4 separate regions of the Homo sapiens genome follow, and regions 2, 3 and 4 are each linked to region 1. The links come from fine-mapping of genetic effects on gene expression. A gene starts in region 1. Each other region holds a variant in brackets. All regions are shown on one strand. Distances are between the middles of the regions.

Region 1 (8,102 bases):
TCTGTCCACAGAGGCTTTCTTTGGCCATTTAGGGCTTCGAAAACGTTTAATTTCATGGCCATCATTTAAAACCAGATAAGGCTGGTTGTGGTGGCTCACGCCTGTAATCCAAACACTCTGGGAGGCCAACGAGGTGGGTGGATCACTTAAGTCCAGGAGTTTGAGAACAGCCTGGGCAACAGGGCGAAAACCCATCTCTAAAAAAAAAAAAAAAAAAAATTAGCTTGGCATGGTGGCTCAGTCCCAGCTATTCAGGAGGCTGAGGTGGGAGGACTGCTTGAGCCTGGGAGGTCAAGGCTGCAGTGAGCTATGATTGCACCATTGCATTCCAGCCTGGGTGACACAGAGAGACCATTTCAAAAAATAAAATAAAATAATATAAAATAATAAAAGTGGCCAGGCGCGGTGGCTCATGCCTGTAATCCCAGAACTTTGGGAGGCTGAGGCAGGTGGATCACGAGGTCAAGAGATTGAGACCATCCTGGCCAACACGGTGAAACCCCATCTCTACTAAAAATACAAAAATAAGCTGGGCGTGGTGGCGGACACCTGTAGTCCCAGCTACTTGGGAGGCTGAGGCAGGAGAATCACTTGAACCCAGGAGGCAGAGGTTGCAGTGAGCCGAGATCGTGCCACTGCGTTCCAGCCTGCTGACAGAGCGAGACTCCATCTCAAAAAATAAATAAATAAATAAATAAAATAATAAAATTAGAAGATTTCACATAAAATGCAGGTGTCTGGCTTCTCTAGGGAAGTGGGAAGATCCAGCCACATGGGTGGGCATTTCTCAGCACAACAATGGGTTCCTCCCTCCTTCCTGTGTGACGGTGCCCACTAGGCCTGTCATTCACAGCATCACTGCACCTGTCTATGTGCCCTAGGGGCAGCATTTGACTTCACAGCTGCTGACAGTTCTCCTAACCTCAACTTCTGGCCCTCTGTGGAGAACTTGCTATGAACTGTAACCTACTAAACTGCTCCTAGAAGAACTTGCTGCTCAGAGTATCCAAACCAGCAGGTGACACCTCTGCTAATAATTCACATTTGACTTTAGGTTGCATTCATTGTTTTTATTTTTGCTTTTTAAACTAACATCCTGTCCTGGTAATGTCACATGAGTGTGATGTTGATCAGGTATACCTGGGGCAGATATTCCTAGAGAGTGTGCTGCCTGGCAGAGGAAGCAATTGAGTTGGTCATTAATTTACTGGGTGGATTCCTAAATGGGGGCCTCAGAGCAACTGCTTTGGGTAACAGGGAACATCTTTGCTGTTTCTAGACCCCTGGAGAGGGCTTGGCATCCTGACAAGGAGGCCAGGATGAGCAGCTCCGTCTTTTGAATAGCTCAATCCAGCCTCAGACAGTTGAAATTAGATGTTAATCTCTGACCAGGCATAGTGGCTCACATCTATAATCCCAGCACTTTGGGAGGCCAAGGCGGGTGGATTCCCTGAGTCTAGACATTCAAGACCAGCCTGGACAACATGGCACAATCCCATCTTTATGAAAAATACAAAAATTAACCGGGCATGGTGGCATGTGCCTGTAGTCTCAGCTACTCGGGAGGCTGAGGTGGGGGTCTGGCCCCCACATCCCAGGTCTTTCTGCTACACCACACTGTTGCCATAATGACTTCGACCTCATTCTGCCATCTCCTAAGAAAGCCAGAGTGCAGGCTAGGAATGTCACCTGAGCCCAGGAACTCAAGGCTGCAATGAGTGGTGATTCCACCACTGCACTCCAGCCTGGGCGACAGAGTAAGATCTTGCCTCAAAAAACAAACAAACAGCTGGGCACGGTGGCTCACACCTGTAATCCTAGCACTTTGAAAGCTGGGGCAGGCGGATCACTTGACATTAGGGGTTCCAGACCAGCCTGGCAAACATGGAGAAACCCCGTCTCTACCAAAAAAAATATTAAAAATTAGCTGGGTGTGGTGGTGCACGCCTGTAGTCCCCAGCCACTTCAGAGGCTAAGGCAGGAGAATAGCTTGCACCCAGGAGGTGGAGGTTACAGTGAGCCGAGATCATGTCACTACACTTCAGCCTGGGTGACAAAGTGAGACTGTCTAAAAAAAAAAATACTTTTAAAAAATAATAATTTTAATAAATGCCTACATATATGCGTGTGTGTGTATATATATATATAACATTTTTTTTTGAGACAGGGTGTTGCTCTGTCACCCAGGCTAGAGTGCAGTGGCCTGACCAGGGCTCTCTGCAGCCTCGAACTTCTGGGCTTCGGTGATCCTCCCATCTCAACCTCCTGAGTAGCTGGGACCACAGATGCATGCCACCACACCCGGCTAATTAAAAAAAGAAATTTTTGTAGAGACAGGTTTTCCTATGTTGCCCAAGTTAGTCTCAAACTCTTGGGCTCAAGTGATCCTCCTGCCTTGGCCTCCCAAAGTGCTGGGATTACAGGCGGGAGCCACTGCACCTGGCCTCAAATGCCACCATATTTCTGATTCCTGTCACCTCCAGGCTCAGAGACTGTGAGTAAACATTCTGGGCAGATAATCGTTTGCAATTGCTTCCAGAGTGCTCTTTGCTGAGCTGTTAAGCTGTGGGCTAAGTGGTAAATGTCAGGTATCTCTGCTGTCGTGGGCCAGGTGCTCAGATTGCTAGGATACAGCAGGGGGTGCCGAGATGAGGCAAGGGGCCGGGTTAGGAGTCCCTGCTCTAGCACAGCGATACTAGCTGAGTCCATCGATGACCTTTAAACCCGCTTCCCCGGTTCTGTCTAGATTACAGGGTTTGGAAGGCTTTGGAAGATGTGTTCAGAGAACTTTGCCCAAACTGGCCCACGCCTGTTCCAATGCTATGCATAGCTGTTTCTGATTCTTAGCCAGCTCAGGCCCTCTATTCTTTCCATGCTGGTCTGCGGCCTCCGTTACCCACCTGCTGAGGGCGATCTTCTGGTGGAGCAGAAAGCCCCGCTCGTAGGGCCAGGGCAGGCCGGCCTCGAACCACTCTCGGCAGCGCAGCACGGGCGAGATGCAGGCGGCGCCTGTCACGTAGCTGGAGGAGCCGCACTCGCCCAGGTAGGACAGGAGCAGCGCCGAGCCCGAGCCTTCGCTCACCGCGAACAGCGGCGCCGCCGGGTGTCGGAAGCGGATGTATGTGACCGCCTCCTTGAGGTCGGACGGGTCCCCGAAAGGCTGCAGCCGGGGGCTGACCAGTGGGCAACCGTGGTGGCCGCGGCGATGGAAGATGACCGGGTAGTAGCCGCGCTCCAGGGCGAGCAAGCAAAGGCCGAGCACGTTGCGGGTGAGGCGACCCCACGCATTGGGGATCACCAGAAGCACCGCAGGAAGGCCCCCGGCGCTGGTGATCCGGCGGCCCCGAACACAAGGTCCTACCACCCAGTCCAGGGCCACTAGCCCATCGTCCGCCAACTGCAGGTACTCCCGGGCCAGCTCAGGCCCAGGCGCTACGGGCAGGACGAAGTGGCAGAGGGTCTGCAGGTGGGGCCCGGAGAACCAGGAGCGCGGGCCGGCCTCCAGCGCCTCTGAGCGCCGCAGGGCGCGCAGCAGGCACTGGGCCAGGGCCGACGGCTTGCAAACAAGGCTGCACCCTCCCGGCAGTGGCTCGCGCCCGTCGCTGAACTGGTCCGCCGGGCCTCCGCCGTCCGCCTCCTCCCCGTCGTCTCGGTCTTGGGCCCCCGGCAGGGTCCTCTCTCCGACGGCGCGCCCCCAGGGTCCCCGGAGCCGCGGGCCGAGCAGGCCGAGAAGGGCGAGCACGGCCAAGATGAGCGCGAGGGCGGCGCCCCACGGCGGCATGGCGAAGCTGGAGAGCCCCGGCGGGCAGCGGGCGGCGGGGCCGTCTACTCGGCGAGCTCCGCGCTTTGCCCGCGGCTCCGCCCGCCGGCGGCGGCTGCCCAGGGCCCTCCCGCGCGGGCGCGCTCTGGATTGGCCGTGGCCGGGCAGAGGCAGCCAGTTCGGGCCCGGCTGCCCTCGCCCGCCCCCCACCCCCGCCCCGGCCCTTTGTACAGCAATTGCAACAAGTGGGAGCAGAGGGTGAGAGGAGCCGGGGCCACCAGGGAGGGAGGGCGCGCCGGCAGCCGGAAGGGAGTGGGGAGGGCACGAGCCGGGGAGAGCGGTGTTGGCCATGGAGACGTGGGGAGACTGGAGGCCGAGGCTTGGGGACCCGACTGTCATCAGGGTCTTCCGCCAGACCCTGGGCGCTGCGCCCTCAGAGGCCGATGAAAAGAAGCAGAAGGGAGAGGTGAGTAAGTCGCAGCTCCGGGCGCCGGCTCCCGGGACCCCGTGGGGCGGCGGCCGCGCGCGCGCTCTGCCCTCGGGCGGCCCTGCTCTCCCCCGCCCGGCCCCGCAACCCCGCAATAACTTGGCTGGGCGGGGTCCGGCACTGGGCTAGAGAGGTCGAGCGCGGCGTCTTGAGCCGCTGGCGGGAGGCTGCTGCTTCCCCGCCTGCATCAGTGCGGGTCCCGTGGACTCCTCGCCCCCGTCCCCGCGAGCTCGGGGCTCCACATCAAGGAAATCCTCAGCCCGGGAGTGGCTTCCCCAGAAACAGCAGCCCCAAGCCTCCGAGAGTCAGTCGGAGAAAAGGACACACTCAGGCGCCCTGCGACAGGGATGCCCGTCCGACCTACAAGGAACGCCTCGTAAACCGGGGTGCATGGGAGACCACGGAAATAACACGTTCTCGCTGTTTCCAAGCTTTGGGATAGGCATCTCGACCCTCGCTCTCTACCCACGTTTCCCCCCCAAATCCTGGAGAGGGAACCAGAACCAGCGCCCCGCTGCGGGGCGGGCCGGCCAGCGCACCTCCTGGGGGTGAGGCCTGTGGCGTCCCCATCTCGCGGCGACCAATCTCTTTCTAGACGCGCGCCTGCCACCGCTGGGCGACGGCGGAGGTGGGGAAGACAGCAGCCTCTCGGCTAGCTCCGGCCTCCCGGGGCTTCTGGGTTTGGAGAGTTTGGGGAGCGGAGACACCTCCCGAGGCTCCTCCGCGTTGGACCCTATTTGCGAGGGCGGGAGCGGGGTGGGCCGACGGCGAAGCTCCAGAGGTGGGACCCTCTCCCTTCAGCAGCTCTTCCTGACTTCATGATTCTGCCCCTCTTCTCATTGCAGGTCACACCGACAAATCTGAAGCGGGTTTGCCAGGGGAGTGTACCCGTCTCCCCAGCCTGGGCCACCCGGTCCACAGGGATTCCATTTCCGGCCTTACACTCCGCTCCACGATCTCATCCAGGCGCTGCAGCTGTGCAGCTGCTCTACAGACTGCAGGGACCTGCTGAGACGAATCCCCGGACGAGGAAAGGGGCCCCCCGCCTGCCCTACTGAGCCTTGCGCGCTGACCCGGTTCCTACACTTAACTTTTCCGGCTTCGGGTTTAAGACGCGTGCGCGCACACTCCGCTGCTGTGGGCGGGCATTGGGGCGGGGCGATACCGGGGGCCCACTGTCTGGGGAGGGGCGCGCGCGAGCCCAGGGCCAACGGACGCGCGGGCGGCGCGGGCGGCGCGGGGGCGCTGGGGCTGGAGGGGCGGGGCGCGCGCGCTCCCTCGCTGGCGGAGCGGCTGGGCGGCGGGCCGGGCCCGGGGCCGCTTGGAATGGCGCCTCCTCCGCCTTCGCCCCAACTGCTTCTCCTGGCAGCCCTCGCGAGGCTCCTGGGTCCCAGCGAGGTAAGGTGACCCGCTCCTGGGAAGGCCTCGGCCCGCGAGCTCAAAGCGCTTTGCCAAAAGTTCGTCCTGGAAGGAGTGGCGCGCCGAGGGGGACGCGGAGTTCTTCCGCTGGCGGGCTGGGCCTGGGGAGAGAGAGGGCAGGGCCTCGCCGCGTCCAGCGCCCCAACTCTTCGCTTTGGACCCACAGGTGATGGCTGGACCGGCGGAGGAGGCGGGAGCCCATTGTCCCGAGAGCCTGTGGCCTCTGCCTCCGCAGGTAGGAGCCCTGGAGGGCCCAGGGAGAGAGGGATGTGAAAGGCTAGCCCAGTCCCGCTCTGTTCTCGCCGCACCCTCCACAGTCACCATCTGAGGACCTCTGCCGGTTCCTCAGTCCTCAGTAGCCAACTTCTCCATCCCAGCCTGGCGCTTGGGGCCTGCCGTCCCCTCCCCACCACACACACACGGAGTCCCCCAACTGCCCTAAGCTCTGTTCTTTCCCCATGTATAGGTGTCACCAAGAGTGACCTACACACGAGTGAGCCCAGGGCAGGTGAGTACAAGCAGGGGCCCACCACCCTTGGTGTCCACGCCTGGAGACAGGCGCTCCTAGCAGGCTTCGCTGCCTGTTCTGCTGATCGGCCCCATTCCTTACCACTTCCCTCAGGCAGAGGCAGGGTTCTAGTTCTCTGCCCCACCTCCAAGCCCAGGACAGATCAGCCCCAGGACAGATGGCTCAAAGACAGTGAGCCATAGGCCTGTCATCTGCAATGCTGTGTCAGGATGCTGTTGGGTAGCTGGCTCTGTGGACAAGTGGCTGTGAGTGGAACTCTCTCTGAGAGTAGCTGGAAAAAACCCAGGCTCCAGCTCCCTGAGGAGACAGCGGGAAGTCTCCTGACTTTGTGGGCCCCAGCTTTCTGTAGGAGAGGGTATTAATTCTGTCTCTACCTGTGAGCAGCGAGGGAGGGTATGTGCCAGCACCGTGTACAGTACAGAGCTGCATCGTGCAAGGAGTGTGCCTCCAGTTGCCAGGCTCCACACTGCGGGCTCAGCTTGCGTGGTAGCATCTCCATCTTCATCGCCAGCTCCTCTGAATTTTCCTTTGAAATACTTATTATTATTATTATTTGAAATGGAATCTCACTCTGTTGCCCAGGCTGGAGTGCAGTGGCACTCACTGCAACCTCTGCCTCCAGGTTCAAGCAATTCTTATGCCACAGCCTCCCGAGCAGCTGGGATTACAGGCGTGTGCCACCTAGCTTAGCTAATTTTGTATTTTTAGTAGAGACGAGGTTTCACCATGTTGCCCACGCTGGTCTTGAGCTCCTGACCTCAAGTGATCTGCCTGCCTCAGCCTCCCAAGTGCTGGGATTACAGGTGTGAGCCACCATGCCTGGCCTGAAATACCTAACTTAAATTGGCCAGGCATGGTGGCTCACACCTGTAATCCCAGTACTTTAGGAGGCTGAGGCGGGTGGAACACCTGAGGTCAGGAGTTCAAGACCAGCTTGGCCAACATGGTGAAACCCTGTCTCTACTAAAAATACAAAAATTAGCTGGGCGTGGTGGCACACCCCTGTAATCCCAGCTACTTGGGAGGCTGAGGCAGGAGAATTGCTTGAGCCCAGGAGGCAGAGGTTGCAGTGAGCCGAGACCATGCCACTGCACTCCAGCCTGGCGACAGAGCGAGACTGTCTCAAAAAAAAAAAAAAATTCTCTGTAATAGCTCCAGGCCAAGAGTTGTTGCCTCACGCCACCTATCAGATTCCTTTCCTCAAACAGCCCTTTCATGAAGTCATTCCTCTGTTCACAAACTGTCAATGGCTCCTTATTTCCCACCTTATCGTGGCCATATTCTCCGGCCTGGCTTTTCAGGCCTTACTTAAGTAAGCTTCGTCTGACCTCTCCACATCCTTGGTTCCTCTCCAGTTGTGTCGGGCTGTTTGCCACACAAATGAGTGCCAGCCTCGCCCTTACCACAGCCCCTTTGCTCCTGTTTATTCTCCTCCACACCTGGCCTATCCTGACTCGGAGAGTGCAGCTCCCTGCCCTCCTGCCATACTCCCCCAGCCATCTTCCCAGTCCCAGCTGGCATCAGCTCCCCCTGAGACACTGCCCGATGGCATCAGCCTTTATTCCTCCCCTCCTCCTCTGAATCTATCTCTGATAATTTAACAACTAATCACTAAGTTTTATTAGTTTGCTGTTTTATTTGCATTAGTTGTTTCCCTGAGTTTCTCACACACTCCTTGCAAGCAGAGTCCAGGAGTTCTTTGGCATCTCCCACAGCATCTAGCACAGCACTGAGCACCAAGTCAACTCAATCAAAGAATAATGAATGATTGATGGAGTATTTCCATCCTGAGATTGTGCACCTGCTGCCTGCCTGCCCTGTATTTGGATGCTCTTGGGAGACTGTATAGATTGGATCGATGGTCTTCATTTGGGGGTTGCTTATGGCTTGGATTGTGGACCTGTAGA
Region 2 (8,087 bases), 23 kb after region 1:
CAGGATGAACACTCAGGTGCAGGCATTGACACACACAAATTCTACCTCCATAAGGGAGGAAGAGGAGCCCAACATTTGTCCCACTCTGCAATCTACACTATGAAGAGACAAATCAGCCTGTAGCTTGTCCCGTAACATGTCCCCGGCCTTGCTCACCAGAGATACCTACAGGACAGGCATCTTGAGGCCTTCACTCTCACCCCCAGGGTTGCCAAAGTGGAAAAGGCTGAGATAGAAGCCCATGGGGTGAGGAGAGGCCCTTGACTGAGATCGTGTGGCGAGGTGGGCCAAGCCTAAGGAAAGGGGAAGATGCACATTCTCCAGGGCTCCCTGCCCCCTTCCTCTCTTGGACTCCCCAGGCAGGCAGGAACACATACGGTGCCTGACGAGGTGGCACAAGCTGCCAGAGCAGCCATGTCATGTCCAGCTGCCTAGCAACACACTCACACTTGTCCTGTGTGCCCATGCCCGGGAGCAGAGGGAGGATGGGGCTCTCTGGGGACAGGCTGCATCTCACCTCTGACCTCCATGACCCCCCAAATTAACCAAGCACAAAAAGTCCCTGGCCCCACTCCTGTGGTTAGGACTGCAGGGCTCCTATCATAATAAAAGAAGCCTGTGACCCTGGGGTGGAGCGATACACCATGGGGCTGGCACTGGATCTGGACTCCGGACTGCTGGGTACCCTCATGCCTCTCTGCCTGAGATGCCACAGGACCCAGACCAAACATGCCGCTGCATGCCAGGGCCAGCATCCTAGGGTCCAGGTGTGGGATAGTCCCAAGCAGCCAGCCAGGGTCCTAACAAGCAGCCAAACACTCAGGGAGTGCCTGCCATGTGCTGGACACCTCGCTGGGTGCTAGGTGGGCTGATGAGTAAGACTGTCCACATCCTCCCCACCCCACCATCCTCACCTTCTCACCACCTTCCTGACCTCTATTGTGAATCAGGGGAAAGGAGGCATCTGGGGCACAAATTCCTCTGACAGATGAGGACCTGGGAGGAGGAGCTGGGCAATCCAACACATCTGATGCCCACCATTCCTCCCTGAGCCCACTGGGCATCCAGAGGCTGTGGTCGGACATTCAACGCAACATACAAAGGACAACTGCCTTGCTGGTGCTGCCCTTCACCCCTCCACCCCAGAATCAGACCACAGATTCGGAGATGGCAGCCCCCCAAAAACCATTTCTACTCCAACTTCTTTGCCTCTGAATTGAGGAAGCTGAGGACCCCACAGTGAGGAAAGTCTTGTTGGGATTACAGAGTAAGCTGGGAACAAAGGCAACACTAAGCCCCAGACTCCCCCGATTGGGCGCCTGCTAAGACTCTCCTCCACATTCCATGCCATGCTTACCCCACGGAGTTGTGGAACAGTGGGGAGACATTTATAAGGCAAGGTGCATCCTCAGCCCTGCCATCCCCAGACCTGCCTGCAGCTCGGGGAACGGAGTCACAGTTTCTTAGGGGTATGGACCCTCAACCCCAGGGCCCTCTAAACCATGATAAGCCCCTAGGAGGCCTTGGTCATAACCACCTATGGAGTATTTTGTGCCCAAGCCCTGCTAAGTCATAGTTCCCAAATACTCTAGCTTGGCACCCCCAGAACCACCAGAGCATCTGTGAGGCTCAACCGGTGGGGTCCTGGGCCTGCTCAAGGGGTGGCTGAAAGTTATGGGCCCACAAACCAGCACCCCATACTCTCACTCTTAATCATGCCCACAGCCCCGCTAGAGTTCACGGACCTCCGCAGCCTGCCCAGGGGCCTACCAGGGAGATAGCTCCTTTGCTAAAGAAAGAATGGATGTGGGCTAGAGCTTCCTTCCCAGGCCAGCTGCAGAGCCCCGTCACTGGCTGTCCTCCCTCATCAGAAGGGAGCAGCCTCTTGGATCATTACCCCTGACTTCCTCAGCAGGCCTGGGGGGTTTCACTCCAGCCCAGTCCTAACTCTGTTAGGAAAAGGAAGGGAACCACCATGTAAATACAGCCAGGAGACAGGCCAGGAAGCCAGCAGGATACGGGGAATCTCGGCACGGCCTCCCACCCATTTCTGGCCAGACTGGGCTAGGGGACAGGGAGGGGCCCGCACCCAGGATAGCTTGATGCCAAGCTCACTTTCCCAAGCAGGCCTTACCGGTGAACAGGAACAGCAGGGTCCAGCCGAGCTGTTCCCAGTCACCACCAGCAGGCCTGGGGATGCCTCCCGAGAAGACACCCGGGTCTAGACTGGCCCTGAACGCCAGGCCCGGCAAGGAGCGCTAGCCTTAGGAACCCGAGGCAGGGAGTCCTGGGAGTAGCCACCGCTCATCTGCTCCTGAGGAGACGGTATTCAGGCCCCACTGGCGCATCTGCCCGGCCCTCTGCTCCTTGCCCTCCACCACCCCGGCAGGCGTACCGACCACGCGAGCAGCAGGTGCAAGACGCGGGGGTGGCACTGAGATGACATAAAACCACACTCGCCCCCACCTCCCAAGCCCTGACGGCCTCCGCCACGGCCCTCCTGCCACCCCAGGCTGGCGCTTCCGTCGGATACAGAGATGGAGGTGGAGGAGCAGCCAGCTGCCCGCCTCCCTCAGACCGAGGAGCGGGAGGCGGCGCCGGGAACGTCCTTCCTCGCTAGTCCACGGCCTCCAGGGAGCATGGGCACCCCAGGCCGGCCCTCCCGCCAAGGGCGCAGCTCCGCAGTGGCCGAGGCGGGGGCCCAGCCTGGAGGCCGCAGCCCCCCGCCCCGCCCAGCCCTCCGGCCCCGCACAGCGCTCTTGCCAGGCCCCGGCGCCCGCCCGGCGGCGGCCTGGCTGTGCGGTCCCGCCCCCGGCCCCGCCGCGCTTACCCGGGGCGCTGCAGTCCGCACACACCTCCGCTCGCGGCCCCTTTCGGGACATCCTCAGCGGCGACGCGGCCGCAGCCCTCTGGGCCAGCGTGGGGGGCGCGGGCGGCGGGCCCGGGCGGCGGCGGCGGCCCCTGCTGCCCGGCCCGGCTCCGGCGAGGCCCCGGCGAGGCTCCGCGCGCCCGGCCAACCGTCCGCCCCGGGGCTGGCCCGGAACCCGCCGTGCCCGCCTGCCCGCTCGCCCTCGGGCGCCCTCCGCCCCGCGCCGCCCCGCCGCCGCTCGCGGCTCCTCTCTCCGCCCCCTGCGCGGCTCCCGGCCGCTTCTGCAGGAAGCGGCGCAGGCCCTGCCCACAGGGGGAGGGGCCGCACCCCCGCCCCGCCGCGCGCTGCCGGCCGCGCCCCCTAGAGAAAGGAAGCCCGGGCGCGGGCAGGAGGGGGCGGGGGCGCTTAAAGGGGCCGCGGCAGATGCCCGGCCCCGGCGGGCAGCGTGGCCTGCGGCCCTGGCCTCCGCTGCAGCGCTCGCCTGGCCCGGAGGCAATGTGAGTCACCCTCACAGCCCCCTCCCCTTCACTTTCCGCGTGGGGTGGACCGGGGGACGCTGGGCCCACGGACGGCGAGGGTGGGGATTAGGGAAGAAGGACTTGGAGGCCCAAGTCCCGCTCCAGGTCAAAGGGGCTGTGCCTTGGGGTACCCGTCTATCTCTGGTTGGGGTGAGGTGTGCGTCCCTGTCCCGTAGGTGTCCACATCTGTGTGTCCAGGGGTGTGTGTGTATGTGTCACACTCTTGCTGAATACGCCCACTGCTAACAATATGGACGCCCAGGTGCCAGAAAGGTCAGGCAGTGTATTCCCCTGCCTCCGGACTAAAAATATATCTATCTCTCCATGCATCCTTCCATCCAGAGAGGAGAGAATCTGGGCGGTTTTTAAAGACCTCCCGAGGAGTGACCACTGTGCCTGTGTGCACTCACATCCACTTGTCATCCGCCTTACACACACCCACGGTGTTTCTGGGCCACCAGAGGTGTGTGTGTCCAGAAAGGGTGCATATAACATAGAGGGGCCGTTTCAGGTGACGGCCTTTCTTCCTGGACTTCACACGACGAGGCAGGCAAAGGCAAGGCAGGTGAGGGACGTGGGTGGGCTGGGGGGCAGGGAGCCTAGGTAGAGGCCGCACATGAGCGCAGCCCCCGCACTGAGCATGCGCCCCCATACGCGTGTGCCGCGCGTGTACCCAACCCCCAATCCCTGCAGCAGCAAAAGGCCCGGGCACTCTGCTTGTGGGGAGAGGGTAGAGGTCCCCAGGGCCAGACCTGGGGGCCAGGTCAGTGGTGACAATTGAGGAGGGGTTCTCCAAGAGTCAGAGACTCCTGCTTGTTAAGATGGGGGCAGTCCTTTGGCAGGGGTGCTCAAGTTGGTCGATTATCCCA[A/G]CGGTGCCAGAGCGGCAGTGATTTGTGGGTGGGCAGGCTCCTTCCCTAGGGGAGACAAGTAATGCTCATGAGTCACACCACCCGAAATACATGCAAAGCTGCCTCCATCGCCTTTTGCTGCGGCCCAGATTGACAAGTTTGTTTGAAATCGCGATCCATGGGCTTTATTTATAATTGCACCTTAAAAAAATCTTGCAGGCCTCCCCTCCCTCGACAGCCAGCCGCTCAGCTGGTGGGGCTTTTGCAAGCAACGATACCTAGCTGGTGTGTAGGGGGGAGCACCACCTGCCGCCCCGAGCTGCTCTCTCACCAGAGTCCATGGGCTTGGTGGCCTCAGCGGGAAGGGGGTAAGGGGCGGGGGGAGTGAGACGGGAGGAGTGGCCAGGCAGCCCGTGCCAGGCGCTCAGTCCACGAGCGGTGGCCGCCCGTTCACCCCCGATCGACCCCCAGCTATGGAATTTCATTTATTAAATGTCGAGGAGGCTGCTGGCAGCCCTGCCGCTTGGCTGTCTTTGTTTCTCCGCTGTGTGGGCGCGTCTCGAGCACGTGGCAGCTGAGAGCGCGGGCCGAAGCGCAAGCGACCTGGGTTCAGTGTCTACCGCCGCCTGGCAAAAAAAGAACACGGCCGCCCAGGGGACAGTTCCCCACAATCGACAACTCCCCACAATCCATCCTGAACTCCCCCTGTCCTCGGACTCCTGGGCTTTGCTGGGGAAGAAGGATGATTCACTCTGCTTACCCCTCCACCCCACTCCCCATCTCCTGGTTGGCTCAGAGACTACCTGGGAGTGGCCCTGGCGCGGACACATCGTCCAAACTTTGTTTCCCCCAGCCCCGTCACAGCCAAACTTCTGGGCCTGGGACTGGAGATAAAAGGGTTTCTGGATTCCCCCGTGGAGATGTCACCACCCCAGGAAGCAGGACTGCTACAGTGGAATCACACACAAGGTTCGAAAAACAATTTAATAAGGAAATGCACAGGCATGCTCCCGGCCACTCCTAGATGCCCCTCAACCGCGCCAGCCCCCTCCCCTGCACTGGCTGCAGCCACGACACTCTGCTGACCCCTGGTGGTGCAGGCGGGCAGCGGTCCCGGGCCCCCGGAGACGCCAGCTGGCTCCTCCCAGGCGGGAGAAAGGGGCGAGGCAGCCCGCTCCTCCCTCATCTCTTCCCGCTGGGGCCTGGCACCACAGGGTGTGGAGGAGGAAGGAGGGAAGACCACACAAAGAAACCTGAGAGAGTTTGCAAGCTTTTGCTGGCACCTCCCACACAAACACTTCTTGGATTGTTGTTTTAAGTAGGGCCGGTGTGGAATCCCTTATTCCTGCCTTGTTCTGAGGTGGGCTCAAGAAGGCACCGTGCCTGGTCCCGCCACCTGTCTCGGCCCGCCTGGTTGGGGGAGGGAGGCGCTGTTTCCAGGGCAGTCATTATCCTTAGCTCACCCCAGGAGGTAGTATCTAGATTCTCATTTTGAAGGGGAGTGGACCGAGAAAGTCGGAAAAATTAAGCAGTTTGCTCTTTTAAGGTCAGGCAGTTGGAGCTATTCGAACTCTGGTCTCTCTGACATCACAGTCCCCTCCCTCCAGGGACTGGTCCAAGCCTCTTGGTCCTTCCAGGCCTTGCAATTGGCGCTTGAGAGGCCAATTCAACTTTTACCACACCCTCTGCAGGGACCATTCTGGAAGTACCTCTTCACCCTGGGGTCATTCAGGAAGGAGACAGTCTCTGGAATCAGTCACTTCCCTTCCTGAAGGGCCAGCTGGGTGGAGGAACGGAGCTGCCACCTGCTGCTTTTTCTGTCCAACCTCACTCTGGTTCTTGCTGGGGACAGTGTGCGGGGGGAAAGGGACCATCTTTCCCGCGTTACTGGACATTCTGTTTCCAATGACATGTGTGGAAGATGGAGTTTAATTTTCTAACAGGGCAGGGAAGACTCCTCAGAAATGTTCCAGGGGCCAGACCCCTGGCTGCTCCAATGACCCTTGGTACTGATGCCCCACACCTTTCTCAGGAGTTCCCAATCAGACGCTCTCTTCTGGGAATCCGGATCCTTCTTCATGGCCCCTGGGACCCAAGCTCAATTCTGAAGACCACACCTCCACCCCGTCTCCCAAACGCTCGACCTAGGCCCGTGCCCCCCCACTTCCCCAGCAAAAGGCAAAATGCCAGCGGGGGAGGTGCGTCCCAGCCCACCTGGCGTCAGGGCCCCGCCCGCGTCTGGGCCAGGCCTGACTCCCCGCCCACTCTCCCACGAGATCCGGGGACAGTGCAGACCCTCTTCGGCCACCTGCCACCCCCAGTTTCACGAGGCGGACTACAAACCCCATGATGCCGCGGGGCTGAGCTGACAAGCTCTACCCGGGGCGCCTGGTCCCCTTCCTCTCTCCCCATCATCCCCACATCCCCGTATCCCGCGCCGGCCGCTCGGGCTGAGGGCCGGGCTATGCAGCTGTGGGGACCCGGGGGCTGCGGGCGCGCGTCCCTGCGGCGGCGTCCCCGGGGCCCGCGTCCCGTGCGCCCCCGCGCCCGCTGCGGGCGCCTGCTCCCTCCGCCGAGCGGCGTCTTTGTGTGCGGGGGTGTGGGAGGCGAGCGCGAGTCCGCGCAGCGCCGCCGAGTGCCCGCTCCCTCCCAGGGCGGGTGGGGGCCTCTCCGCGCCGCCCGCCGCCGCCGCCTCGCGAGGACGCCCGTCGCCCGCGCCGCCCGCACCGCGCCGGGCGCGCCGCCCCCGCCCGCCGCCGCTCGCACATGCCCGAGCCGCAGCCCCGCGAGCAGGCAGCGCCGGCCCCCCGCCCCGCGGCCCCGGGCCCCGGCTCCGGCGCCGTCCCTCCTCCCCGGCCGGGCGCCGCGGCCCCGGCATGAGGAGCGGGCGATGATCCCCGCCAACGCCTCCGCCAGGAAGGGGCCCGAGGGCAAGTATCCGCTGCACTACCTCGTGTGGCACAACCGCCACCGCGAGCTGGAGAAGGAGGTCCGCGCGGGCCAGGTAGGAGCGCCTTCGGGGCGCCGCGGGGACCCCGCGGCCGGGCACGCCCGTCCGGCCTGGGGAGGGGGTGCGGCGCGGGCTGTCCCGCCTCCCTGGCGAGTTTGCGGCGCGTCTTTGTTTGCGGCCGCGGCTTTTGTGCTTGTTGACCGGGAAAGGGTGATCCCCTCCGGCCGGGACGGGCGGGACCACACGTGTTTCGGACTCACCTAGATGAGAGTAGAGGCCTCTGTGCCCCTCCTCCGCCGGGGCAGTGAGGGCTGCAGGGAGGGGCTGCGGGCTGTGTCGGTGTTCCATGTGGTGGGAGAGTCCGCCCCAGCCAGTTGAGCGGCGACACCTCCCGAGTGAGGGTGCGGAGGTGGGAAAGGCTTGCGTGGGGAGGGGGCCATAGGTCAAGAATGGGGAAGAGGCTGTGTCACACTCCCAGGCACCCCAGCCCCACCCAGCGCCCTCTCCCCAACGGTGAGCGCTTTCTCTTTTAGCTCTCAAACTGGGCAGATCCTTGGATCTCTCAGAGCCCAGCCCCAGCTCAGGAACAGGGAGTGGAGAAAGACCCTCTTGGGAGGCCCCAAGGGCCTTGTCCAGGTGCTGAAAAGCGCTCTCCTGCCCTCTGGTGCTGGGGCCTGGTTTCTAGGCGCAGAGGAAGCTGAGGGGCCCTGGCTGCTGGAAGGACTTGAGGTTCTGCGCACCAGGTGGGCTCCCTGGTTTCTGCTGGTCAGTAAGGCCACGTGGGTCACCAGCTTTGGGCTGGGCAGTGGTCTCCAGAAAACAGGGGAAGGGGGGATGTCTTCTGGCCATGCTTCAGGATGTCTTCTGGCCATGCTTCAGAACAAAGGCAGGCACAGGTCACA
Region 3 (8,102 bases), 110 kb after region 1:
TCATTTATCGTTGTTACTGCTGTTTGGTTTTACTTGTTACTTAGGAATAGATAAGTCAATTGTCTTTAACTGAGCCTTAGTCAAAGGGGGTCATAAATTTCCTGTTTTCCATGAGAAACTTACCTGCAAAATATGCCCTAACTCTAAAAATCTGGTCTAAACACATGACCTGAAACTGTCCTATCTCAATCACTGCAGGAAATGATAAGACTTAATTTTTCAGTGAGTCTTTGGATTCCACCCACCTCCATCCTATCAATTCTGTTTTCAGGGGTAGATTATCTCCCTGGGGTCTTTTTCAGGCTCTTTTATTTCTTGTTTTGCTTGCATTCTATCCATTCCGCTCCCCATGGGGACTTCTACTACCTAACAGGCAGCTGAATAGGAAACTGAAATTCAAATCCCTGACTGGGGAATGGATTCTGAATCTTAGTCACATCATTCTCTGGTTGTATTAGATAATTTTCTAGATAATCTAAAATAAGAGAATAAGAGGCCAGGTGCAGTGGCTCACACCTGCAATCTCAGCACTTTGGGAGGCCAAGGCAGGAGGACGGCTTGAGGCCAGGAGTTCAAGACCAGCCTGGGCAACACAGAGAGACCCCCGTCTCCACAAAAAAAATTAAAAAAAAAATTAGCCAGGTGTAGTGGCACATGCCTGTAGTCATAGCTGCTTAGGAGGCTGAGGTAGGAAGAACACTCGAGCCCAGGAGTTGGAGGCTGCCATAAGCTATGATTGCACCACTGCACTCCAGCCTGGGCGACAGAGGGAGACCCTGTCTCTTTAAAGGAGAGAGAGAGAGAGATATGAGAGAGAGAGAGAGATCTATCCTGTCTAAATGTAAGAAATACTCTCAGGGCAGTTATGTAACCCATCCAAAGCATGTTTTCTCACCCATAATAAGGGGCTAATAATATTATTTTGGGGGCTTGGTATGATGATTAAATATAATCCATGCAAAGCATCTGGCATGTAGTAAATAGCCCTGAAATGTCCATATGCCAGCTGATGGTTATTAGCAAGTATAATGTTTTCTCTAGGCTTTATTTGCATTATGCAAATAGCCACCAGCAGTTTAAATGGAAATTTATTTATCCATAAAGTAACGAATGCTATCCCTGGTTACCTTAGGAAATAGCTAATGCAGGCCAGGCGCAGTGGCTACGCCTGTAATCCCAGCACTTCGGGAGGCCAAGGCGGGGTCAGGAGTTCAAGACCAGCCCAGCCAATATGGTGAAACCCTGTCTCTACTAAAAAATACAAAAAAATTAGCCAGGCGTGGTGGCACATGCCTGTAGTCCCAGCTACTCAGGAGGCTGACGCAGGAGAATCGCCTGAACCCGGGAGGCGGAGGTTGCAGTGAGCCGAGATCGCGCCACTGCACTCCAGCCTGGGCAACAGAGTGAGGCTTCGTCTCAAAAAAAAAAAAAGAAAAAAAAGAAATAGCTAATGCATAGCAATGTGATGTTCTAGATTTGGCTCTTAGTCCACTAACTAACTTAGTCAATATGTCCCTAATAAAACTCGGTATCAACTGGCTTATCTAAACCGTTAAGTCTCTGCCAGAGCCTAAGAATAACACCTCTGAATTCCTCTGAATTTCACTTGTTCACCAATACTCAAGGCCTTCCAATTGCAACAATTTGAATATTGCATTTCTAGGTCATCTTTAACTACGATGGTTATACAAACAGATCATTTAGCATTTTCATAGCAAACTGTACCATTTCAAACATTTCTTACAAAATATTCCTCCAATAACATTAAAACACTTTTGTAGAGATAGTAAAAGTCATCTTACCACATTGCCTGCACAGATACAGGTTTGAATATGTGAACTCTGTTATCCGTCGATACACTGAACCCACTAAGGACAAATGAGAACAAGACAAAAATCCACAAATTAGGGTAGGTTATTTGAATTGTGAGTTTTCATGGATGTATCCCAGGCTAAAAACAACTGGCTCCGTAGAGGGAATCATCAGGCATTTCACGTAGAAGTTTTAACTAGAGTGTAAGACTTGACCAAAAAGCTTTGACAAATTGTCTGACTTCATCTACCAGGCAAAATGAATGGATTCCTATATTGGAGTTAGAGAATTCAATACAGTTTCCCAGCTGTAGCTATGGACAAACTGTTCTGTATATTTCTATTTGGAAGTCTTGTGGGTTCTTAGCAAACCTGACCCTGGTTTTATAAACTGGAGCAAACATCTTGGTCTCTTGGGGACACATTCTAAAAACATTAGGAGGTAGGGTGGGGGTGGGGTCACTGGAAGGAACTGGCACAGGAAAGGGGTTATACTGTAGGCTGACAGCTGGCAGAGGCAGCAAGAGGTTATTTGAAACAGAACATATCATCCTTTGGGAGAGCATTGCAACAGTCCCACATACTCAGATTAAAGAGCCAACAAACTAGTTCTTCTTTGTCTTGATTCCTACCACAGTCGGCCTAGAAGAACAGAAGTGAGAGACCCTGGCAAGTTGTATTTTTACTCCACTTTACAAAACAGGAGTTTAAAAGGACTCATTCAGCTGTTGACATGAAAGTTCAGTTGGCACACTGGGCCTCCCTTTTAGCTGAATGAATGTGCAGTAAGATGGAGCCCCACCCCTTGGCTTTCTGTAACAGAATAAAAAAGGAAATCTCTTACCCATCACCATCCAAATGAATTAGCGTGTCGCTCCAGAGAGGCAAAACTAAGCCCATGGTACAAGTGCTACTGCAAGACAAGAAGTAGTCCAATAGTTACTCCCCATTACTCTGGGAAGCAGTCTTCTGTTTACTAACTCTTTCAACACCAAGGATAAACCCTTAAATTCTAAATTCTGGCATAAGTGTTACAATGAAGAAATTTCTATCATATTATTATTAATCTTATGTATGTCCTCAGGAGCTGTTTTAAAGAGATAGTCAGTCAGTTCCTTAAATATTTAATGAAGAAAACTTACTGACTCAGCTTCCTACATTGTCATCTTGCAAATGGCCACTATCTAAAAAATGCAGATGATTGCTGCTGACTTGCATTTGGCAGGTCTTAGCACATAGTACAGTGTCCACCTCGACTCCAAGGATTTTTTTTTTTTTTTTTTGAGATGGAGTCTTACTCTGTTGCCCAGGCTGGAGTGCAGTGGTGCAGTCTCAGCTCACTGAAACCTCTGCCTCCCAGGTTCAAGCAATTCCCCTGCCTTAGCCTCCCCAGTAGCTGGGATTACAGGCGAGCGCCACCACACCTGGCTAATTTTTCTGTACTTTTAGTAGAGATGGGGTTTCACCATGTTGGCCAGGCTAGTCTCGAAGTCCTGATCCACCCACCTCAGCCTCCCGAAGTGCTGGGATTACGGGCATGAGCCATGGTGCCCAGTCCCAAGGATTATTTTTAATGCCAATAACTATTGCTGGTTGCTGGAGAGCTTGGGATGTGTTATTTGCCTCTAATTCTGAGGTTTACATAGATTTACTTAACACCAGAACACACTCAATAGTCTAAAAGGCAAAGGGAATTAAAAAATGTAAAGAAGTAATTGTTAATAGTTTGTGATCAAGATAGGCAAAATAGACATAACAAAACTTAAATCAATGAAACACTGCTTTGTGACTGTGCACTGAACTAGCACTGCTGAAACACAGTTAATAGAAATGTCAACAACCAAGAAAAGGGTAGCCCTAGTATGGTATTTAAAAATACTATTTCTTTTTTTTTTTTTTTTTTTGAGACAGAGTCTCCCTCTGTTGCCCAGGCTGGAGGACAGTGGCATAATCTTGGCTCACTGCAACCTCCACCTCCTGGATTCAAGTGATTTTCCTGCCTCAGCCTCCCGAGTAGCTGGGATTATATGCATGTGCCACCATGCCCGGCTAATTTTTGTATTTTTAGCAGAGATGAGTTTTTGCCATGTTGACTAGGCTGGTCTCAAACTCCTGGCCTCAGAGTGATCCACCCGTCTCAGCCTCCCAAAGTGTTGGGATTACAGGCATGAGCCACTGCACCCGGCCTAAAATGCTATTTCAATCTCACATTAGCCCAGGAAGGGCTTTAAGTTAATGGAAGAGGTTCGTACAGAAAGCCATGGACCCCTGATTGTATGCTCTATCACATCTCTTCTCTGGGAAACAGTAACCTACCCTAGGCTACTGCCACTATCTCTCCTTAACGCTGCTGTAACTGCTTTCCCACTCTGGCTAGTCTCCGAAAGGCTTCCATGATGCTCCATGCCAATCTATCTAGAGCGGAAGCATGGTGTACTAGAAAGAATCTGGCATAACCATACTGTGGAAAAGCACAGTATGGTTAAGAGCTCTGGAACCTGGGTTCACAGTATGATTATGGGCTCTGGAACCTGGTTTCTTGCACTAACTGTATAATCTTTTTTTAAAATTTATTTTTATTTTTTTTTTTATTTTTAAGATGGAGTTTCACTCTTGTTGCCCAGGCTGGAGTGCAATGGTGTGATATCGGCTCACTGCAACCTCCACCTCCTGGTTCAAGCGATTCTCCTGTCTCAGCCTCCTGAGTAGCTGGGATTACAGGCATGCACTACCACGCCCAGCTAATTTTGTATTTTTAGTAGAGATGGGGTTTCTCCATATTGGTCAGGCTGGTCTTGAACTCCCAACCTCAGGTGATCCACCCGCCTTGGCCTCCCAAAGTGCTGGGATTACAGGCGTGAGCCACCG[C/T]GCCCAGCAACTGTATAATCTTAGGCAAATTACTTAACTGTCTTGTGCCTTAATTTCTTCATTTGTAAAACTGGGATAAAAATATCTTCTTCATTGTACTGTTTTGAAGATTAAATAACAAATAAAAGAGTAAAATAGTGTCTAAGTGCCTAAAATGTAATAGTCATTACCATTTATTGAACATCTACTATGCCAAAAGATCTGGGATTGATTTCCTTCAGTATTACAACTTTTTTTTAAACAAATTATTTAACCTCTCTCAGCCTTAATTTCTTCATCTTGAACTGTGAATAATAAAACCTATTCTCATAGATATAGGTATAAAGACATAACATACTTAAAATAAAACAATATATGTGAATATACTGTCCTGTAAAACAAATGTTGAATATGAATCTGTAATGGGTGCTCTAATATATCTGAAAGTGATTGGGGGAAGGGGAAACCATTATGCTTTAAAAACAACATAATGAATACCAAACTTTAACTGTTAGTCACTGCAGGGTTAAAGGAGGCTAGCCCTTAGTTGGGCTTTCCACTACACTTGCTGGCCTGTGCTGCTTAACACCTTAAGAGTGATTCCAGGCCAGGCACGGTGACTCATGCCTGTAATCCCAGCACTTTGGGAGGCCGAGGTCAGGAGTTCAAGACCAGCCTGGCCAACATGGCGAAACTCCATCTCTACACTAAAAATACAAAAATTAGCTGGGTGCAGGGGCAGACAGACACCTGTAATCCCAGCTACTCGGGAGGCTGAGGCAGGAGAATCACTTGAACCTGGGAGGTGGAAGTTGCAGTGAGCTGAGATTTGCGCCATTGCACTCCAGCCTGGGAGACACAGCAAGACTCCCTCTCAAAAAAAAAAAAAAAAAAAAAAAAAAAAAGAGTGATTCCAGAGCTCAGGAGATTCAAATCAAGACTGAAACAGCTTATCCACATTAGAACCTGGACCTGAACAACAGAAACACAGCTACCATGCCAGAGTCCAGGAGCAAGACAGCTCTACCACAAGTTTTGTTGAGTAGATGAGATGAGCGCACAAAAAAATTTGTTTTGAAAACGGCTTCCCAAGATGAAGTGGGGATAGTTTTACAGTAGCTTTTTGTTTTGTATTTAGTGAGTGCTTAGCCAGGTTCTTAGCAACAAGTATAATTTTGAGTATAAATATGGTGGGTTGGTAGCCCAATGACAAATCTAGAAATTAACTATATAAAAAGATACAGAAGCTGCAAAAGAGTGTGATCTATAAGCTTGTGACCAGATTTTGGTTAACCTTTGGACAAGTGACATTGATATACAGGAATCGACATTACATTTTTGGCTTGTATTCAGGCCAGAGTGCTTTTTTACATTAAGAAGTAGCTTTTTCAGCAGGGCGTGGTGCCTGTAATCCCAGCACTTTGGGAAGCAGAGGCGGGCGGATCACGAGGTCGAGATAGAGACCATCCTGGTCAACATGGTGAAACCCCGTCTACTAAAAATACAAAAATTAGCTGGGCATGGTGGTGTGCGCCTGTAGTCCCAGCTGCTTGGGAGGCTGAGGCAGGAGAATCGCTTGAACCCAGGAGACGGAGGTTGCAGTGAGCTGAGATTGCACCACTGTACTCCAGCCTGGCCACAGAGTGAGACTGTCTCAAAAAAAAAAAAAAAAAAAAAAAAAAAAAAAGTAGCTTTTTCACGCAACAGGAAGGAAAGGACTGAATAAGGCACGCTTGGTATTTTTATCCAGGTTACCTCAGTCTCTCAAGATTTTTCTCCATTTAAGTATAACTACTTATTTTAGTAAATATTCAATTCATTCAATAAAAATTTATTTAGTGCCTACTATGTACCAGACATTTCAAGGTGTTAGGGGTACAAAAAGAAATGGAAAAAAAAAACCCCAAAAAACCATGAAGCTCTATTATTTTATAACTTAAAATATGTTACACTTTAGAAACCAAGATTATGCTGCATATTTAAAAAATTATTAAAATATAACATAATACTCAAAGAACTTGTAAATGGGCTAAATGAATTGGCTGCAACGTATTATTAAGAACTATTTGTACTTGTCATAATCTGGGTTCCACTTTGGCTTAATACTATTTTGAAGCATTAACATTTACATTCTCAGATATGAAATGATACAAATTCAAATTCCTTCAACAACAACTGAGACAGAAATGATTTTAGATTACCTGAGCATCTGAGACTTCTTACTGTCCAAGGAACTCATTAAAGCAGAGGATGTATGGGAATTTCATAATAGCAAGTTTAGCAAACAGAATGAAAACTAGTTTCTAGCTTTTCATGTTTTAAGTTTGTCTTCTATAAACTATAATTTCCTTTGGCTAGTGACACTGGTCAGATATGATTCAGACAGGGCCATTGGCAAAAGATAGATGTAATTTACTGAGTATAAACTACTGGATACCTATATTAATATGCATTCTTTCTGGTAAAGTTTAGGACAAAGTGAAAGAGAAATGATTAGACATGTGCTTGCTCATATTCTGGGTCAGGAGAATCTGCAGTTATTGTCTTCTGTCTCTAGGGGAAGATTCAATTGAAGCTTCATGAGGTTCCTGTTCCTGTTTTATAGGGTTTTCAAGGGAGGGGGTCAGGGAGAACTGAACAAAGGAAATATGAGCTAGAACAGTGCTGTCCAACTGAACTTTCTGCAAGAATGGAAAATGTTCTATACATGTACTGTCTAATACGATAGCCACTAGCACATACGGTTACTGAATACTTGAAATGTGACTAGTTAGAACTGAGGAATTGAAATTTCATTTAATTTTAATCTATTTAAAAAGACACGTGCATGCTGTATGCAGTGGCTCATGCCTATAATCCCAGCACTCAGGAAGGCAGAGGCAGGAGCTCAGGAGTTGAGACCAGCCTGGGCAACACAGAGAGACTGTGTTCTTCACAAAAAGGAAAAAAGAAAAGAAGAGAAGAGAAAAGGAAGGAAGATGAAAGAAGGAAGGAAGGCAGGCAGGCAAGAAGGAAGGAAGGGGCACATATGGTTAGTGGCTACTATACTGGACAACACAGATCTAGAAAGATTAAAAACCTAAATTAGAGGTCCTAAAATCCTAATGAATGTAAACAAGGTAGGTGCTGTTATAGGAAAATGCTTACTGAAAGCTCTGTTGCTTAATCAGAAGTTAAAACCATGCAGGAGAAATCTTCCTAAATCTGGTTTACAAGCCTGTGTAAATTCAGAGCCTACAATTAAATGCTGTTAAGTGGTATACAAGCTAATAACTTTGGCTTTGGGAATTCCTGTGAACCCCCAAGTCATTTTCAGGTTGACTTCTATATAGGAATAAGGTAAACATTGGTTTGGGAAACTTTCTAGTGACAAAGTGATTTTTTCCCCTCAACATCAGGAAAATTAGAATCATTCCCAGGCTCCTCCTCTCTTTGTGGCTAAAT
Region 4 (8,102 bases), 86 kb before region 1:
TTACGTTATATTGGCTTTTTGTTTTATTTTTATTGTTATATTGTCATTTTTTAAAATTTTATTTATTTATTTATTTTGAGACAGAGTCTCACTCTGTCGCCCAGGCTGGAGTTCAGTGGCGCAATCACGGCTCACTGCAAGCTCCGCCTCCCAGGTTCATGCCATTCTCCTGCCTAAGCTTCCCGAGTAGCTGGGACTGCAGGCACCCACCACCACACCCAGCTAATTTTTTATATTTTTAGTATAAATGGGGTTTCACCGTGTGTGCCAGGATGGTCTCAATCTCCTAACCTGGTGATCTGCCTGCCTCGGCCTCCCAAAGTGCTGGGATTATAGGCATGAGCCACCGTGCCCAGCCAATTTTTTTATTTTTTCAATTATTTTTGATATATAGTTGGTTGAATCTACAAATCTAGAACCCACAGATGTGAAGGGCTGACTATACATATAATTCTAGAGAACACAGTTTTCTGTCTTCTAACGATGATCAATATTGTTACTATAGGTTTGTAGTAATGGAATAGTACATTTTTAAGAAATAGTGTATTTCTTTATAATTTTAATTAGTAATTATATATGAAATACACAGCTTATAGAAGTGATTATATGTTGGCATTATTAAAAGATTAATGTATCATTGGCTTGACTTTATGCATTTAACAAATCACTGAATACATAACTATTTTTTATTAAAAAATTTTAAAAATATATTATTCTGAGTAATATCTATATAACTATTTTTTTAAGGTAAATGGTGACTAGAATTTTACTTCAAACTATGTTCTTGATCTACTGTGTGAACTTATTTTATCTTAAATTTATATTAAATCTTTATAATAATATATTTTAATGCTTTTATAACTTTTCCATGTAGCTTGTAATGGAATATTGTTTAGGATCTGCTTCGGATTTACTAGAAGGTAAGTTCCCTTTGATTATTTTTTAAAAAGTATTCACAGAATAAAATGATAATTTAGACATTATTTAAATGATATTAATACCAAATAATGTAAAACTTTCCAGAAAGAGCAGAACTCTTAGTCTTGTTCAAATTCTCAGCATGGTATATGCTGTCCTTATTAAATATTATATGTTATACAGTAGCTTAAAATAGTCATGTTTTCTCATTGTGACTTTACAAGTATTTTTCTGAATTCTCTGTCATTCTGCTCCTCTTGTTCAAACCAAAGATAAGTGAGAATAAAGAGAGAACTCTGTTACTATTGTTTTTACATCACCAAATAATTATTTAATATCGTTAGCTAAGAGAAGAATTGGCTATGAACTGTACTTTAACAACTGACACAACTGCATACAAGTTATAAAGTTTAATAATCTTTATCATCTTGGAAAATAAATCTCTTCTTGCTAAGTATCAGTTTTTAAAAATTGCCCCATGTATTAGATATGTATTTTTTTAACAAAAATGTTCTGTGTATTAATTATTTTGAAATAAATTTTAAGTTCACAAAAAGCCATTACAAGAAGTGGAAATAGCAGCAATTACACATGGTGCTCTTCAGGGATTAGCCTACTTACATTCTCATACTATGATTCATAGGTAAGTGCTTTGGAAATTATATATTGATAAGTAAATGGCTTGTTGCATATACCAACTTTAGAATTTATTAACTCTAAAGTTTTTATTGGTTAAAGCCAAATAAAATAATATAAGCTCATATTTTTTTAGATTTTTCATGTCCTAAAATGAACATAGTTGTATACTTTATCTCACTAGGATAATTTTTATCTTTGCCTATATGTGCTGCTGGACCTTGTAAAAATATGTATACTTTCTAGATTTGTGGTAGAAATTTAGCTATAGAATCATTTAATTTGCAAACTGGAATGGGCATTAGAGAATCATACAGTTTTTCTTTCTCATTTTACCGGTAAAATCACTGATGTCTCAATTTGTGACTAATTTCCTAAAGGTTGCAAAGCTGAGTAGATAGAGCTAGAACTAAATCTAGATCTTTTGTCTTCTTGGTAACTGATAATGACATATTTATTCCATTGATTCTATGACATGGACGAATAAAAGCTGCTTAAGGCCAGGCGAGGTGGCTCACACCTGTAATCCCAGCACTTTGAGAGGCCTAGGCAGGTGGATCACTTGAGGTCAGGAGTTCGAGACCAGCCTGGCCAACCAATATGGTAAAACCTCGTCTCCACTGAAAATATGAAAATTAGCTGGGCTTTGTTGTAGGCATCTATAATCCCAGCTACTCGTGAGGCTGAGAGAAGAGAATCACTTGAGCCCGGGAGGCGGAGTTTGCAGTGAGCTGAGATTGTGCCACTGTACACACTGTACACTGTACCACTGTACAGCCTGGGTGACAGAGTGAAACTCTGTCTCAAAAAAAAAAAAAAACAGAAGCTGCTTAAGACTCCTTATGCTTTTGAGCTGTGGTCCTTGATAATCCTTGATAATGGATAGTAACTTTGAAGTTAAAACATTTTATAATGTATTTTTGGCACTGGTATTGGTTCTAGCTGTTTTAGAAGAAAGTTAGCATTTTCTTATTACATATATGAACCAGGCAGTACATTTTAAACTATATAATAGAGTCATTGTGAGTTAATAGGTTATCATTTTTTAACATGAGGATAAGATCTGAGAGATACCCACAAGCTAGTAAATAAGTGAGTTTTAAACTATATAATAGAGTCATTGTGAGTTAATAGGTTATCATTTTTTAACATGAGGATAAGATCTGAGAGATACCCACAAGCTAGTAAATAAGTGAGTGCCATAGTTGGAATTTCAACCTAAGGTTTTCTCAAATTTAAGATACCTCTCCATTTAAAAAAAATCAAATGGAGGAAAAATAGATTCACTTCGTGTTATGCTCTAAAATATTATAGTGAGAATTAACAAGGGCTTGGAAATTCAGCACTTTAATTTCTATTTTAATTTTTGAATGATTAAGTATATATTATAATGCTAATTAGATGGACAGTCTTATTATATAAATACATGTTTTCTTAGTTTATATAGACAGTATGTTTGCTATTTCAGAAAAGTAAATTTGGGATCATTGATACTACATTATCCATATATTTCAGTTTTTATTTTATATTTAGGAAAACTATGCTGACGTTTGGAAATGATACGAATACATCTTTATGTATTTATTTATTTTGAATAAGTCTTTTAAAAAGTTTGGAGAATAAGGTTCTTTTATATTTTCTTTTTTGTTTTTAAGTTAAGTATGGATACTCAGAAATCTTACGTATGATGAAGAGATTGTTTGCTAATTGCAATATATTTTAAAAACCATTGTTTCTACCAATAAACAGAAACTAAAATATAAACTATGCTCCAATGAACTAATTTTTTTTTACTGCTATTTGTCTTCTCTTTTAGAAAATTATTACTATATGTTTATTTGAATTCTGTAGTTTTTTGTTTTCTAATTTGAATATTAATTCTCCTTATCCCAATTGTGAGATTACCCCAGCACTTAATTATTTTGATTTCTCTTTCTCTATCCTATGAATTCTTGTTTTATTTTTATCGTTTTAAACATAATCTATTGAGGGAAAGTTAAGTAATTTTCTGTATTCCCTAAACCTAGAGATATCAAAGCAGGAAATATCCTTCTGAC[A/G]GAACCAGGCCAGGTGAAACTTGCTGACTTTGGCTCTGCTTCCATGGCATCACCTGCCAATTCCTTTGTGGGAACGCCGTATTGGTAAGAATAGTTAAAGCAGTCAGCAGCTGTTTTAAGTGTCTGTCTATGTTTAACATGAAATACAAATGAAGTGTAAGGTAAAGTACTGTCAGGAATGTTAAACTCGGCCAGGTGCAATGGCTCACACCTGTAATCCCAGAACTTTGGGAGGCCGAGGCAGACAGATCACTTGAGGTCAGGAGTTTGAGACCAGCCTGGCCAACATGGTGAGACCCCATCTCTACCAAAAAATACAAAAATTAGCCAGGCATGGTGGTGCATGCCTGTAGTCCCAGCTACTTGAGAGGCTGAGGTAGGAGAATCACTTGAACCCAGGAGGCAGAGGTTGGAGTGAGCCGAGATTGTGCCACTGTACTCCAGCCTGGGCGACAGAGTGAGACCCTGTCTCTCAAAAAAAAAAAAAGATTAAAATTTTAAAAAAAGAATGTAGGACACTAATTGAAGACATGAATTAGTGATTAGTGCTTCATTTACAAATAAGATGCCCATAAGATTGATAATTGTGTGATTGAGTTGCAAGCTGCCCTAGCCACTTTTATCATGGAGCACCATTTTTATTTGAAAGAAAGACACAAACAAACTATGATTATTCAGTCTTGGTTATTGTGGCAGATAATTTTCTTTAATAAATGACATGAGCTTATAACTTCAAGGAAAACAACGGACAATACTTGTTGCCAATAGTAAAATTCAATCTTTTAAGCAAAAATTAGACTTTTTTTTTTTTTTTGAGACATAGTCTTGCTCTCTCGCCCAGGTTGGAGTGCAGTGGTGTGATCTTGGCTCACTGCAACCTCCGCCTCTTAGGTTCAAGCGATTCTCCTGCCTCAGCCTCCTGAGTAGCTGGGATTACAGACAGCAGCCACCACACCCGGCTAATTTTTGTATTTTTAGTAGAGATGGGGTTTCACCATGTTGCTCAGGCTTCTGGAACTTCTGACCTCGTGATCTGTCCACCTCAGCCTCCCAAAGTGCTGGGATTACAGGCGTGAACCACTGTGCCTGGCCAAAAAATAGACTTTTGTAATGGGATCCTGAGACCAAAATATTTGAGAACCACTGGCCTAAAGTATATGAAATATTATAATCTGCAAACTTGAGCAGATGCAAAATATAATTCTGCCTTGGGAGCCTCTTTCTTTTGGGGTGGCTGTTACATGATAATGATGGATAGTGAAAATAAATCTCACACTATGGGCCAGGTGCGGTGGATCACGCCTGTAATCCCAGCACTTTGGGAGGCCAAGGCGGGCGGATCACCAGGTCAGGAGATCGAGACCATCCTGGCTAACACGGTGAAACTCCATCTCTACTAAAAAATACAAAAAATTAGCCAGGCATGGTGGCGGGCGCCTGTAGTCCCAGCTACTCGGGAGGCTGAGGCAGGAGAATGGCGTGAACCCGGGAGGCAGAGCTTGCAGTGAGCCGAGATTGCGCCACTGCACTCCAGCCTGGGTGACAGAGCGAGACTCTGTCTCAAAAAAATAAATAAATACAATAAATAAATAAATACATAAATCTCACACTATATATGCATTGCTAAATATTTACCTCACAACCTGTAATGCACTTAGTTCCCGTTATAAAAATTCTTATGTCCAGATATATTGGCTAGAATTCAAACCAGTGATCTCCATGTAGATGACTGTTACATTCTCAAAGGATAGAATACTTTTTAAAAAAAATCTTTAATTTAAATTAACGTTTTGTTCTAGGATGGCCCCAGAAGTAATTTTAGCCATGGATGAAGGACAATATGATGGCAAAGTAGATGTGTGGTCTCTTGGAATAACATGTATTGAACTAGGTAAGCATTGTTCTTCATTACTATGGATTAAGTTTTGATCAATGTTTTACCTCAATTTCTGTACCAATCTATAAAAATTATAGATTTTTATCTTAAATGTCACTTTATAAGGGGGGCAATACATTTATTAAGGTTTTCACTTTGGTTATTTGGTAAGTTTTATTTATATTAGGGTTACCTATATTATATTTGCTCTGTTCCATTATATCTAAAATAATTTTCCACTGTGGTTTTAATTAAGTTTGAGGAATCTATGTCTAACATTAATGAGTATTTGTTAAACACCTAGAATATGTTTATGATTACCAGATTTACCAGCTATAGAAGATCTGTAAGCCATTCATAACTAGCTGGGGTAGTTACTACTTTTTTTTTAATTAGGGATGAAATTAGATGTCAGACTGTCATACCTACATACCATTTTGTAACAGTTTGATATATATATATATACATATTTTTTTTTTTTAAGACGGTAAGGCCGACTTCATTCAACAGGGGCCATGATCCATAGGTATATGCATCACTGTAGCAGGGTCTTGCAATGAGAGAGAGAGAGAGATTGGACTGAATTTCCTGTAGCAGTTTGATTTTAAGCACACATTTTGTTAAGTTGTTCATAAATAGAACTGTGCTAAAAAGAGTGGACCATCATAACTTCTGTGAGCCAATAAACTGTCACTGTAATTGAAGATGCTGGCCGTCTTCTTGCTCTGGATTTCCCAATGGAGGTCTACCAGCCCAATAGTCTTTTCCTTTTTATCTTCTTATAAGAGCATTGCATTAAATTTTACTTATTTATTTATTTTTGAGACATGGTCTTGCTCTGTCACCCAGGCTGGAGTACAGTGGTGCAATCTCAGCTCACTCTAACCTCTGCTTCCTGGGATCAAGCAATCCTCCCACCTCAGCCTCCTGCATAGCTGGGACTGCAGGCACACACCAGCACACCAGGCTAATTTTTGTATTTTTAGCAGAGACAGGGTTTCGCCATGATGCCCAGGCTGGTCTTGAACTCCTGGGCTCAAGCTATCCTCCTGCCTCAGCCTCCCGCAGTGGGGGGATTTCAAGCATGAGCCACTGCGCTCATCTAAACCATTCTAAAAGGAGTGACTAAGGATGGAAAATAATACATTAAAAGTAAAATCTGTTGGTAATTTTGATTAATCATTATCTACTCGAGTTTGTCAGTAGTTTTCTAAAATAAGTATAGGGAAAATGAGGTAAAATGAAGGTAAAATCTTGCTTATTATTACACAGTAGATTAAAGTTACGATTTCTATTACAACCAGACTACCTTGCAGTCCAGTTTTTTTTCCCTAAAATGTAATCTTTAAGTATTTTCACTTTTGTTGGAATTCCTCTGTTAACTACTCCCTTCAAGCTCCACATCCTGCTGCTGTTTGTTTTATAGTTTAACAACATCAACAAACAGAGATTTGGAGATTACCATGTCATACTTGGGATTTCTTTGTCTTAATTTGAAGTTTGCAAAACTGTTTCTTCCATTTGAAAGTACCTTTAGGTGTCCTAAACTCTAATCTCTATTCTTTTACCTATGATTCTTTTTCCTACCCATAGGTCCTAATTTAATTTCTTAAGAAGCCTGGGTATACATGTACAGAAGCTGGTTAATGTACTCTTTGCCCATGGGGTCCTTTTACATTCTTAATGCTGGCCGATGCATACATGTGCCCCTCAGTGATAGTGAAATTGCATTAATGGACCTGCTAGATTTCATTGATATATTTTAAGATTTATTTGATTAGAAGGTATTTGTTGGCTCATTGTTGTGCTTAGAACAAAATCTACCTAAACTTTGTAGTTTCCGTGAAATGGCTTCTCCTTTCTAGCTTCTTTTTATTCTACTTCATAAAAGAGTTCCTTCACAATAGAAGTTTTTATACTTAAAGGAACTTTAGATGTGACTGCCTTTAAATAATTTTGCATGGGAGAAATATTTGAAATAATTTCTTAGAATTTTAGGCATTCATTTGGTATCTTCACTTTTGTAATCTTTCATAATAACTTTAAACATTTTACTTACAAATGTTTTGAATATTTTGAAGTGCTAAGTCAGGAACTATATTTTAAGCCTGATTATGGTTCTAGGTGAAAGGTCTAAAGTAGCACAGGCCAGGAAAACTTTCTGCAGTGAAGGAAGTGTTCTGTAGCTATGGCTTTTCAGCTAAAGGAGTGAATTTTCTAAAATTTTATTTAAATACATTTGCATTTAAATAGTCACATGTGCTAGTTAGCTACCTTTTTAGATAACACAGGTCTAGAGGTATGATTTTCGTTTTTTTTCTTTTCTTTCTTTTTTTGCGGGGTGGGAGGGAGACAGAGTCTCGCTCTGTTGTCCAGGCTGGAGTGTAGTGGCACAATCTTGGCTCACTGCAACCTCCGCCTCCTGGGTTCAAGGGATTCTCCTGCCTTAGCCTCCCAAGTAGCTGGGACTATGGGTGCCTGCCACCACGCCCAGCTAATTTTTTTATTTTTAGTAGAGATAGGTTTTCACCATGTTGGCCAGGCTGGTCTCCAACTCCTCACTTCAGGTGATCCACCCACCTCAGCCTCCCAAAGTGCTGGGTTTATAGATGTGA

Alleles and levels. Positions count from the first base shown, and alleles are read on the strand shown. Sizes are in standard deviations (SD) of each study's normalised expression. Not every link is listed here.
For the expression in monocytes of the gene that starts at base 3,852 in region 1, G is the low allele of the variant in region 2 and A is the other (small effect, 0.38 SD a copy in Fairfax 2014).

What was found. PIP is the estimated chance that this variant, and not a neighbour inherited with it, causes the effect.
Region 2: its variant is fine-mapped to the expression of ABHD15 in monocytes (Fairfax 2014, PIP 0.95). The same link has a PIP of 0.9 or more in Th17 cells.
Region 3: its variant is fine-mapped to the expression of ABHD15 in whole blood (INTERVAL, PIP 0.95).
Region 4: its variant is fine-mapped to the expression of ABHD15 in lung (TOPMed, PIP above 0.99).

Annotation. Positions count from the first base shown.
Region 1 is chr17:29,563,186-29,571,287 of GRCh38, forward strand. ABHD15 (abhydrolase domain containing 15) reads right to left here and starts at 3,852. Exons shown (of 2, transcript NM_198147.3): 1 at 2,901-3,852. The coding sequence starts at 3,781. TP53I13 (tumor protein p53 inducible protein 13) reads left to right here and starts at 5,516. Exons shown (of 7, transcript NM_138349.4): 1 at 5,516-5,645; 2 at 5,833-5,901; 3 at 6,133-6,174. The coding sequence starts at 5,574. RefSeq lists enhancers at 2,793-2,902, 4,923-4,972, 6,056-6,556 and silencers at 3,423-4,042, 4,133-4,392, 5,393-5,752.
Region 2 is chr17:29,586,497-29,594,583 of GRCh38, forward strand. GIT1 (GIT ArfGAP 1) reads right to left here and starts at 3,152. Exons shown (of 20, transcript NM_014030.4): 1 at 2,831-3,152. The coding sequence starts at 2,882. It overlaps ANKRD13B (ankyrin repeat domain 13B), which reads left to right and starts at 6,636. Exons shown (of 15, transcript NM_152345.5): 1 at 6,636-7,239. The coding sequence starts at 7,126. RefSeq lists enhancers at 1,434-2,333, 3,233-4,132, 7,755-7,824 and silencers at 2,551-2,740, 3,001-3,480, 5,241-5,430. The variant A/G (reference allele first, on the strand shown) is at 4,257.
Region 3 is chr17:29,675,018-29,683,119 of GRCh38, forward strand. It overlaps SSH2 (slingshot protein phosphatase 2), which reads right to left. Exons shown (of 16, transcript NM_001282129.2): 7 at 2,656-2,724; 8 at 1,803-1,868. Among named protein-coding and RNA genes, the nearest start is that of SSH2-AS1, 40 kb to the left of the region's middle. The variant C/T (reference allele first, on the strand shown) is at 4,680.
Region 4 is chr17:29,476,787-29,484,888 of GRCh38, forward strand. It overlaps TAOK1 (TAO kinase 1), which reads left to right. Exons shown (of 20, transcript NM_020791.4): 5 at 875-920; 6 at 1,465-1,561; 7 at 3,582-3,695; 8 at 5,411-5,502. Among named protein-coding and RNA genes, the nearest start is that of ABHD15, 86 kb to the right of the region's middle. The variant A/G (reference allele first, on the strand shown) is at 3,612.